Regions from separate parts of the Homo sapiens genome. Here region 1 is linked to region 2. The links come from fine-mapping of genetic effects on gene expression. A gene starts in region 2. The other region holds a variant in brackets. All regions are shown on one strand. Distances are from middle to middle.

What was found. PIP is the estimated chance that this variant, and not a neighbour inherited with it, causes the effect.
Region 1: its variant is fine-mapped to the expression of EBF1 in fibroblasts (GTEx, PIP above 0.99).

Annotation. Positions count from the first base shown.
Region 1 is chr5:159,044,263-159,049,636 of GRCh38, forward strand. The region is part of intron 6 of EBF1 (EBF transcription factor 1); the gene reads right to left. Among named protein-coding and RNA genes, the nearest start is that of EBF1, 53 kb to the right of the region's middle. The variant G/A (reference allele first, on the strand shown) is at 2,987.
Region 2 is chr5:159,097,496-159,102,869 of GRCh38, forward strand. It overlaps EBF1 (EBF transcription factor 1), which reads right to left and starts at 2,421. Exons shown (of 16, transcript NM_024007.5): 1 at 1,850-2,421. The coding sequence starts at 1,983. LINC02202 (long intergenic non-protein coding RNA 2202) reads left to right here and starts at 2,988. Exons shown (of 3, transcript NR_109890.1): 1 at 2,988-3,343. RefSeq lists enhancers at 58-951, 2,701-3,329, 3,330-3,956 and a silencer at 1,594-1,883.

The sequences.
Region 1 (5,374 bases), 53 kb before region 2:
TGGGCCCAACCTCCTATTTATTAAGCAACAAATTACATTATTGGAAACACTGGGCTTTTGAAGGACCCCAAGTTAATGCAGGTGTTGTGGGGGTTGTCGCTATTGTTGTTGTTTTAATCTACTAAAAACTATTGTCTGAATACTTAAATTTTCATATAATTAAACAAACCAAAACTATAAAGTGTGTTCTGTCTCACAAGAGAATCCTAGCTGGTGTGTAGGAGTGGAGGAAGTGGACTCAGGACAAATAAAAATTCACTGCATTTTTAACATATAAACTAATCATTCCTCTCTCTTCCAGTGTAAGTCACGAGGCAGAAAATACATGTGGAGTATGTACATTGCCACAGAGTATTCATATAACATAAAAATTAAAAGTAAAATTATATTCTTCTAAAGTGCAGGTCCCCAAGATTTTTCTCTCTGAGTCAAATAAGTAGTCTATTACTCACTGTTGTTGTCATTTATTCAATTATACGTAGTGTTAACTAAGTAGTGTAATATAAAGAGTGTAGTTATTATGACAATATTTCCTTATCTCATCTATTTCATATCCCCTTTCTCTCATTCATGTATATTTGTATATTTCTAAAGTAACTTCTTAAGGATCACAAGGGAATTTGTTAATTTCTATAAACAAAACCACAGGAAAAAGAAAATCTTCAATGTACCAGAGCTAAAAACAAAGATTCAAAAGAAGGGGAAAATATTAAACAACCTTAAGACCTTACCAAATACATTTAATCCTTTGAATAACTGTATAAATATTTGAGTGTCTTTTATTTATGTTTTCCTCCTTTTATTATAAAGTAAGATAGGCTTTATGAAGTAGTCCTTTAAGAAAAAAGGAAAAAAAGAAACTTTGGTTCATTATTTAACTTCCGAAAAGCCAACATCAAAGGTTAGATTTTTGGCATTCAAGATCAGATCATTTGTAATTTCTTCTTTTTTTAATGTTTTTTAAATTTTCATGTGGAGAAGAATCAGAGATCTCAAGAATTCTTATCTGGAGGCCTCTCTTAGCCAAGCTGAGCTGATGGGAGCAACTTTTTTGTGCCAAAACGCAGAAGAGAAGTTATACACAGTTCCTCCCTCCCTCCTTTTTTCTCCCCTACGTACACCCACTTTCTGACTCAAAATGAATTTTTTTTTCCCCTTGTATTTAAAAGAAGAAGAAAAAAAAAAGAATCCTTGTCGTATTGGAAGTGTGACATTACAATTCATTGCATTAAAAAAAAGATCTGAAACTCCCAAATTTACTTAACAAATCCACAATGTTTATTTAGGACCAGGGTGAGGGGTGCTTCCTATTTGCATATGGTATCCTGTGAATTTACTATATGCATAATTTTTAGGTACTTAATGAATGATTCAAATAGAAACAGAATTAGAATGCAGACAATGACAGTCATGACACTCAGGGACAATGAAGTAGGATGGAAGTCCAAAGCTGTTTGGCTAAATCAAATTGTGCATCCTAAAATCCAATTTCTATTGAAACTGCAGGAGCTTGAGATAAAGTTGTCATAAAGTCTTATCAAGATTAGTCAAGATAACATGAACATTAGGAAGCCATATTTAGATCATTCCAATTCTCCCATCTTCCCACCACAAAAAGGACTGGAGGAAAAAATGATCCAGACAGTTCACCTTGATTCTCTTCTCCCTCAGCTCCCCATAGCCTATCTGAGCTTTGTTCCCTGCCCACTGCCTTCTAGCTCTGCCACCAGTAATGACCAAGACTTCATTATCTCTGGGCCATTACTATCCCAGTAACTTCCCAAATTGATCTCCTTGCCTCTGGGAACTGTTCCCTACAGCTCTCCGTATATTCCTCCAAGTCTAACTCAAATATCCCTTCTCTCTAGCTTTCCATGACCCCCACACAGAATTAATCAATTCCGATACAGGTGCCCCTGACACTCTGTCCCACCATTTAACCATCTTATCAGTTACTCTTGGTTTGCATATGACTATGCCTCTCAGTGCACAGACCCTCGAGGGTAGAAAATGTCTGTTTCACTAGCATATGAGCAATAGCATCTCCCACAAAACAGGCTCTCAATAATCTTGTTGAATTGAACCCACTAGGTCTACTGGTGAATTTTAGCTATTCCCATAATTGTGTCGACTTGTGCAATGACAAAAATCCTACTTATTAAAACATTCTACTGTAACATAAGCGGAATGTGTAAGAGCCATGGGCCTAAGTGGAGTGGTGGAAGGGAAGAGACCTCAAATAGGCCAAAGCATCATTTCAAAATCCTTTTCTCAAAGAGCACATTAAGTAGAAGAGACAGCATGCCAGGACTGGAGACTCAAGCTACTAGTGAGCGTCTTTCTTTTTTTAAACAGGTGCTTATTGAGTTGTACACTCTGCTACAGATTAATGATTCAGAGACTAATAAGATGTGATCTCTGCCCTCCAGAAAACTGGTGACAAAGACATAGTATGGAGGGGTAAATCTGAGAAACCTAAGATTGGATAAGATTCATGACTGGCAGGATCAACAGTGTTCTGAGTAAAGTGGGTGGAGGGAGCCCGGCTCTGTAGTGTTTGCCAATTTCTATGGTGTAAATATCCCCACTATGAATGACTTCAAGCTACCAATGTGATATCACTGAACAGAGCTGGGAAAAGATTCACTCAGTTGGTTCTCATGAGTCCACATAAGCCAGCTACAGCACAACACTGGACAGAATCCGTACCCTCCACAGCCACAAGCTACATTGCTTTTCATCCAATAACTCATTCAATAGATATTACTGCGTACCGAGTGTCTGGCACTGTGTTTATTATTGAGTACTGAGTGTCAGGAGGAATAGAATAGTAAACAAACAACCACAGCTCCTGGCTGCATGGGGCTTAGAGCATCCTATGCTGGGAACTGACCCAGCTGGGGAGTGAAGGTGTCTCTGAGAACTGAAGGGAAAGGGGCTAGAATCTGACGGATGAATTGAGCTTCTCAGAGAGGAAGGAATGTCC[G/A]TGACAGAAGCAATGGGAACAGCAGATGAGTAAGAAAGTTGGCTTTTATCCTAAGAACAATAAGGAGCCACTGATGAGTTAAAGGCTACAGAATGTCGTGATCAGCTTCGAATTCTCAAAAGCTTACTTTGGCTCCTATAAGGAGAGAAGGGTCTCTAGAGAAACCAAAAGATTGCAGAGACACCAATCTGGAGTTAAGGCAGGAGTCAGGTGGCAGAGTTGGGGTGGCGCAAAGGGGACAGAGCTGAGAGATAACTAGTATGGCTGACAGAGATGGGGGAGGGGCAACAGCAAGGATGACTCCTCGGTTCCTATAACTGAAGGGACAGAGAAATCCATCAATAATAAGGAGGAAGATGAATTCATGTTTTGACATTGAGTTTTCATCCACATGAATTTTATGTTCCCCTTTGTGTAAAAAGACTCCCTACAAAAGAAAACCCATACCTCTTCTCATGCCCTTCAAGGTCCTTCACACATCAGCCCCAACCCTTTTGTACCCATTGCCACATACCCCATTACTGCTATTTCCCTCCCACGGGGGTATAACCTTTCCAAAACTTTTAGTAAATTCATAGAAGCCTGTCTGAACTTTTTCTCTCACATCCCCCATCAAAGTCTGCTTTCTGATCCTTGCTTCTTGGAAGGACACATGTTCAGCATCTTACAGAGCTGCCCAACCCAGAACTGTCTGCATTTCAGACAGAAGAAAAACCTCCAATCATGTCTCATTCATCTTTGCATCACCTGGACCTTTCAGGAGATAGGCACTATATTTTCCACATGCTCCATGTGGAAATACCTTATTCTCCAGAGCAAAATCATAACACCTGGTCCAACAGCATGAACACTCTTAGGGAAGAAGACAGAATGGTCTCCAGACATACAATGAGCACTCAACAAACATTTGTGGTATATGAATTTGTGCACTTCTTGATGGACTCAATGAAGAATCACCAGATGCCTCCTACACCCAAGTACGCAGTAGGTACTCAATAAAGAAAAAAGGATGGACTATCAAGCTTCCCTCCCCATAGGAACTTTACACTCAGCTTCTATAACAGATGCATCTGGTGCCTACCTCACATCCCTGTGTCCCACCTCTGACTTCAGCCACATGTCTGACCCTGACCACAACCTGCTATGTCGTGGCTTCCTTCCACGGCATGCCAACTCTGAAGCAGATGCCCAGCCTGCACACCAGCACCCTGGGACAGCCCTCAACCAAGAGGGGACAGGTGCCAGGAGATAATGCTCTAGCCTCTTGTACTTCTGGAGCCTGGCTCTAGGAGGCACATTTTACTCTGTCCCTTAGAAGATTCCAATGGGACCATGTACCAGCCACAGCAGTGACTCTGATAATACATCACTGCCTTACTTTTTCTTCCTTGCCTTTTTTCCCTCTTCTCTCTCCCTCATTTCCTGCTTCCTAAGATCATGCCCATATAAACTACCTGCATCCAAATCCCTGCTGAAGGTCTAATTTCTGGGGAACTGCAAACTAAGAAAGCCTCTGATCTAAGCCAGCCATTTCAGGATCCACAAGAGACTCTTTCACTCTGGCTGATGAATTCCACACCAAAAACAGGGTGAGGGCCGTTCAGCAACTTTTCAGTTCTGTTGTTCTCTGAGGACATCTGTGGATGTTTTCAGTGGAAGCAGTACACAGTAAGTGCTAAATACACATGTCTTCCAAATTAAATCCAGGTAAAAATCCAGCTTCTTCACAAGTAGTAAAAAGGAGGTAATAATGTACATGGCATCCCAAATTATTCATTTTGTCACACCATTCCCCTGCATTCGTCAGGATTTCATTTGGCTCCTTTTTCCAACCTTAGCCCAGCATGCTAGCAGGTATTTATCAATATATTAAATGCTACTTAAACTTCCTAAAATGATCCCAGAACAGTAAAGGGGAAAAAAGCTTCTGATTTAAAGCTAAACATACACAGCTATCCATTAGCATGACAATGTCTGCATTTTACTTAGACATTGCCATTAATAATGAAATGATGTATGATTTCCACTCCAGCAGCTCTTCCTTCCTTGCACAATCAATTATACATTTAAGAAAATACTTAGTGGATAGAAAGCTCCTCTAATTAAGCATCACTTGAGGGAGCTTGTGAGATTCTTAAAACTAGAAAAGATATCTCAGAGAAGTAGGATGGTGGAGGGAAAAAAAATCCACTCAAAATGTTTGAGTCTTGATTAGACAAACTCTCAGGCATTCTGAACCACTATGAAAGGAAAAACTCACACACACATATATTTTAACCCAATAGACTTTGAGGCGAACTAAATATTCTGCAAAATGTAAAAACTTTCTCTTTGTTCCAGCTAAGAAGCCAGGACTAAATTGAAATTAGATATTTTGGTTGAGATCCA
Region 2 (5,374 bases):
AGAACCCACAGTTATATTCCGGCACCCCTCGAATCTCACGTCTCAGCTAGCAGGGCAGGTGGGAATGGATGGAAAACATGCTCGGCGTCTCGCCGCAGCAGCCACCCTCCAGGAACCCCTCAAGCTCTGGCCAACTGCGAGTGCCCGGCCTTGGGAAGCCACATCCCCCCACCACCAAAAAGCATGTGGAGAAGGGTCCGAGGGCGGGGCTCAGAACTGTCGCGGGTGGTCGCTGTGAAAAAGGGAAGAGGGGTGTTTTCTTAAAGACCTGTCCTAACAAAGTTTCGCTGTTCCGCAGAAATCCTCACACTCATTCCAGAAATCCTAAAGGCCAGGGCTGCTGGCTCAGTGCGCCGGCCGGCGATGGGAGGCTGGAGCGCCTGGGGCGCCAGGCGGCCACTGACAGCCGGACCTGCCCAACACAAGCGCGCACAGGCACACACACACACATAGAAGAACACACACGAGCGCCCCGCGCACACACTTTCACTTCCAGCCCAGTTACCCAATTCACTCTCACTACCACCCACCCCCATCCTAATACTCAGTGGGGATGGGAACAGTGTTGGGGACACTTGTCCCCAGCCCAGGGAAGCTGGAGATGATGTAATTAGTCATCTTCCTTCTTCCCCTTCCGCACTCTGAGTCCGATAGGGCCTGGGGCCACCAGATCTCCCACTGTCCCAAGCTCAGCTGGTGGCTTAATGGGGGGAAAAAGGCCATTTCTCACTTGGGACCAGGAGCCTGGGAAAGAGCCTTGGGTGTGCCCAGGAAAGTTCCCTCAGGTCAACCTCCAAGGGCAATGCCTCCAGGCCACACAGTCTAGTGTCTAGGGAGCTGCGAGTGAGAGAAGGGCTGGAAGGGGCCATGGTGACAGGGGCTGGAGAAGACTTTTGGGAGATATCAGAATTAAAGTTGGGAGTTGCTATTCTACCGGTAGACTAAGAAAAAACTGAAAGACAGAGAGGGAGGGAAGGAGAACGAGATAGCAGAAATAAGAGAAGACTCAGGGGAGAAATGGGACGAAAAAACAGGAAAGCCAGAGAGGTAAGGAAAGGAGAAAGAGGAGAAAGGAGGGAAGCTGAAGAAAGAAGAGAAAGAAAATGGAGAGAGGAAGGGAGGAAGGAAAAGAGTGAGGGAGAAATTAAGGGAAGGTGGGGGAAAGAAATGAGAGAAGGAAATGAAAGAAAGAAGAAAGAAAAGAAGGCAGGAAGAGAGACAGGAAAGAACGAAGAACGAAAGAAATGGAAGGAGGGAAGAGGGGAAGAAAGGAAGAGGAAGGAGAAGAGAAGAAAATAAAGGGGGGAGAAAGGAAAGAAGGAAGAAAGAAAAAAGAAAGGCAGGAAGAGGAAAGAGAAAGAAAAAGGAAAAAGAAAAGGAGGAAAGAAAAAAAGAAAGAAAAAGAAAAAAGAAAGAAAAAGGAAGGAAGGAAGAGAAAGAAAGAAAGAAAAAAGAAAAGAGGGAAAGGAAGAGCGAAGGGAAAGAAGAAAAGAGAGCCGGCCGGAAAAGAAAGAGCAATCACATAAAAACATAAAACACAGATCTCCAACATGCTGTGTTGAGACGCCTCTTCTGGGTTAAAACAAAATGAAAACAGTCACAGACGAGGCAGGGGAAAGTGCTGGCAAAGCGTGGGCTCCTCGCAGACAGCTCCAGGTCCTCCGGCCGCAGGCGACGAAGGCAGAGCGGCTGGAGAGCGCGGAGCCCCGGCGGAGAGCGGAGCGCAGCGGCTGCGGACTCACCCCGCCGCCCGGCCCCGCGGCAGCAGCTGCCGCTGCCGCTGCCGCCTCCGCCTCCCGGCTCTCCCGCTCGCGGCTCACCTCGGCCGCGGTCCCCGCGCAGTACCCACCTCTGCGCCGCCGTGTTGGCGTCCAGCACCCCGGCGCCCTGCATCCACGTCCGCACCGCGTTCATGCCGCTGCCCAGCGGCTCTTCCTTCATGCTGCTTCCACTCCGTTGGATGCTTTCCTGAATCCCAAACATGAAAACAACCTTTTCTTGTGGAAAATCTCCTCCCCCTTGAAAAAAATTAAAAAAAAAAAAAAAGGAAAGAAAAGAAAGAAAAGAAAAGAAACAAAAACGCCAACCAGAGATTTTTTTTTTTCTCAGACGATGAACTCGCACTTAGAAGATCAAGGCGGGCTGGAAAGCAAATTTTTAAAAAATGTAAACCTCTGCTCAAAACTGAGCGATAACCCGAAAAAAAGAAGAAAGGGAAAATCCAACGAAAAGACCAAAATAATAAAATTAGAGATGTATGCTTGGCTGTTGGGGGTTGTTTGGTTGGTTGATTTTTGGTTTGGGTGCTTTTTTTTTTTTTTTGCTTTTTTTTTTTTTTTTTTGTAATGATCACAGGCCGGTGGAGGACAGGAGGGGCTGGAGTTTCCTTTTGTAGAGGTACCCTTCACTTGAAGAAGCAGGAAGAAAAAAAAAAAAAAAAAAAAAAAAAAAAAAAAAAAACCCTGATGGCAATTTAAGAAACAATAGACTCAACTCGCGCTGCCGGCTTTGCTACTTCAAGTGTCATTTTCCACAACCAGGCAAGTTTTTTCCTCTCTCTCTCTTTTTTTTTCCTCCTTCTCTCCCAACCAAAGATGTTTCTTTCCTTTGCGTGTAGATGAGGAGGACGCTGGTTGCCGTAGACAGATACACCAGAGAGGGTGGGGGGAAGGGGAGAGAGGGAGAGAGGAAAGGGGGGGAGGGAAAGAGAGATAGAGAGGAGAGGGAGAAAGAGAGAGGGGTGGACCCTGCTGGATGGAGATTCTGTTTTCTCCTTGCTAAAATAGAAGTGATTTGCAGGCTTTCCCTATGGAATCCAGTTTGACTTTCCCCAGAGCTAAACACAGGCACACTAACCCCAAAGGGAGGAGGCGGGGCCCGCGCATCGAGGCCCCGCCCCTTCATTTGCATAACGTCATCTTTCCGCCCACCGCAGCCAATCGCGGCCCGGGAGCCGGCTCGCTGGCGGCGCCAGGCCACGCTCTCTCATTAACATCCCGCTCCCGGTGGCGCAGGGGAGCCGGCCAAAGTTCCTCGCAAAGTGGCGAGCGAAGGAGCGCTGAGCACTGACGTCTGGGCTGGGGAGGAGCGGGTCCGAGCGAGGACGGAGAGGGGACAGAGGGAAAGGGAGGCGGGTGTCTTCCTCAGGAATTTGAGCTGGGGATCTGCATCCTGGCCATTGCAGTCCTTTAGCATCCTCGCCGCGCCCTGAGCGCGCTGGAGGCTCGCAGGCTGCGCCCTCCCAGGGCTGATGCCGCGTCCTGCTCCGCCGTTCTGGGACGTCGGGGACAAAAGTGGAGGAGACGGGAGAGCCCGGGCAGAAAAAGCAGGACGCGCGTCCCAGGTGCCCACCTCTTCGCTTTGAGGCGGGGGCGGTGGGATGGAATATGGGTGCGCGAGGTCGGGGCTGGTAACTCTCGGAGGGGCACGGCCTCCACGCTGGGAGGGATGAATGGACGCTGGGCCCCGGCAAATGAGGCGCTGTGGGTCCCCAGGAAGTGGGGTACCAGGCTCTACTCCCACCCCGGCCTCTGAAACGCTTCTCTCTCGGCCGCTAGCCTAGAGGCTGCCAGGGTTGGGCACTGTTCTCACTCACACGCTCACCTCTCTCGGGCAGTCCTCGAGATATGTGAATGGTGGAATGAATGCTCTCACTGGGGCTGTGTCAGGATGCGTTTTTAAATTTTCTCAAATTAAATGCCAACCCCTCATTCCCCACCCCAAGTAGTTGGTTCGTTTGTTTTTAGAGTAACTACCAAAGCAACAGCAATGTTAACCGTCCTTGATTAGCTGGTTATTTGGTGTAGGGTTTTTCTCATCCTCCTTTATTCTTCCTGTTAAAAAGGAGGGCTTGAACAAATCCTTCCTAACTCTGTCTCTGCCATATGAAAAGGGTGGGGGGAGAAGAGAAGGAAGGTGGGGAGAAAGGACAAAAAAGGAAGAAGGGGAAGAGAAAATGGGAAGGAAGGAGGGAGAGAGAAAGGAGAGAAGGAGAAGGAACGAATGGAAATGGGAGAGATGGAAGGAAAAAGGGAAAGAAAAAAGGACGAAATTGTCTCCCTCCTCAGGCTTTTCAGCATGTATCTTTGTGGCTGGCAAAGGAAATAGCTAGAAGTTTCTGGGTAATGTACCCCATCATTTTTTAGCAGGTTGTAACCTCTAATAAGCACATGGTGAACTTCTGTTTCATTGCCCTCAAAGGAACTCCCTGACTGCAGCCAAATCTGCTAAGGACTCCTTCGGGGAAATTATCTGCCAGAAATCCAGGTCCCCTTTCTGCTGGCCTTCCTTGGTCCTTTGATTTAGGAAGCTCATGGGGTCAGTGATGGAAAAGTACACATGCCCATGTTGAATAGAGACAGGCAAGAGTTATGCTTTGTGCTCTTGGCAGAGCAGTGGAGCCACTTCCTGATTCCTAAACTGGATGAAAGAGTGTGGTCCTGGCCTGCAGTGCATGGCCACTGTCCTCAAACACTGCTTTATCTCCTGTGCACGAGGCCTGCCCAGCTCTCACACATGTAATCTAGACTTCTTGTGTGCTGAGCACTTTCCCCTGGTACCATAATTAATGCCATCTCTTCCAGGACTTCCCTGAAGGGATTGGTCTGATCTTTTGGGATCCCCATAGCATTCACAGGGGTTCCTAACATAGCGTTCATGTCGAAGAAGAGTATAATGGTGGAGAGACTTGAAGGGCTGTAGGTTTTTGGGGATAGGTATGTGAACATTTTCAGTCTCTATAGTATTTAAATGCACAATTGAAACTTGGCCTGCTAAAAACTTTCTAAAGCTCCAAACTTAACCTTATGCTCCAGGTCCAAAGGGGTCCCCAGAGTCAATCCCTCCCCCTGCCTGGGCCATATTCTCCAGCTCAGAGAGGATCCTTGAAGGTAAGGAGATGAGGAAGCAAAGCCCACCCATCCTATCAATGGGTCCCATATAGCCCTGGCAAAAGGCCTAGGCCTCCTTCTCTTTATCTGCCTGAACCTCCATTTTACTCTCCAGTAAACAGTCCTCAACTGCAGGACTCCCAGCTGAGTCTGGTGGGGTGTCTCCAGTGGTGAGGGACACAAAATAAGGGAGCAGATCACTGCCAAAGGAAGGTGACAAAAGTGCCAGGGAAAAGAAAAGCATAGACACCCTCAAGTCCAGGATCAGCAAGAGACACACAGCAGATAGATTTCTGGGGTTGAACAGAGTCTAGAAGCATCTGCAAAGGATGCGTTTGTTGAGAGCCTGAAGCTGACTCACCCAAATGAGAAAGTGGCACAAAGCAAGAAGTCCTGAGCAGCTCAATTTCTACCCCAGAGCCAGTCTCTCCAGGAACTAAATATGAGGGAGGCAATTTCCATACCTGCCAGGCTAGAGAAGGAAG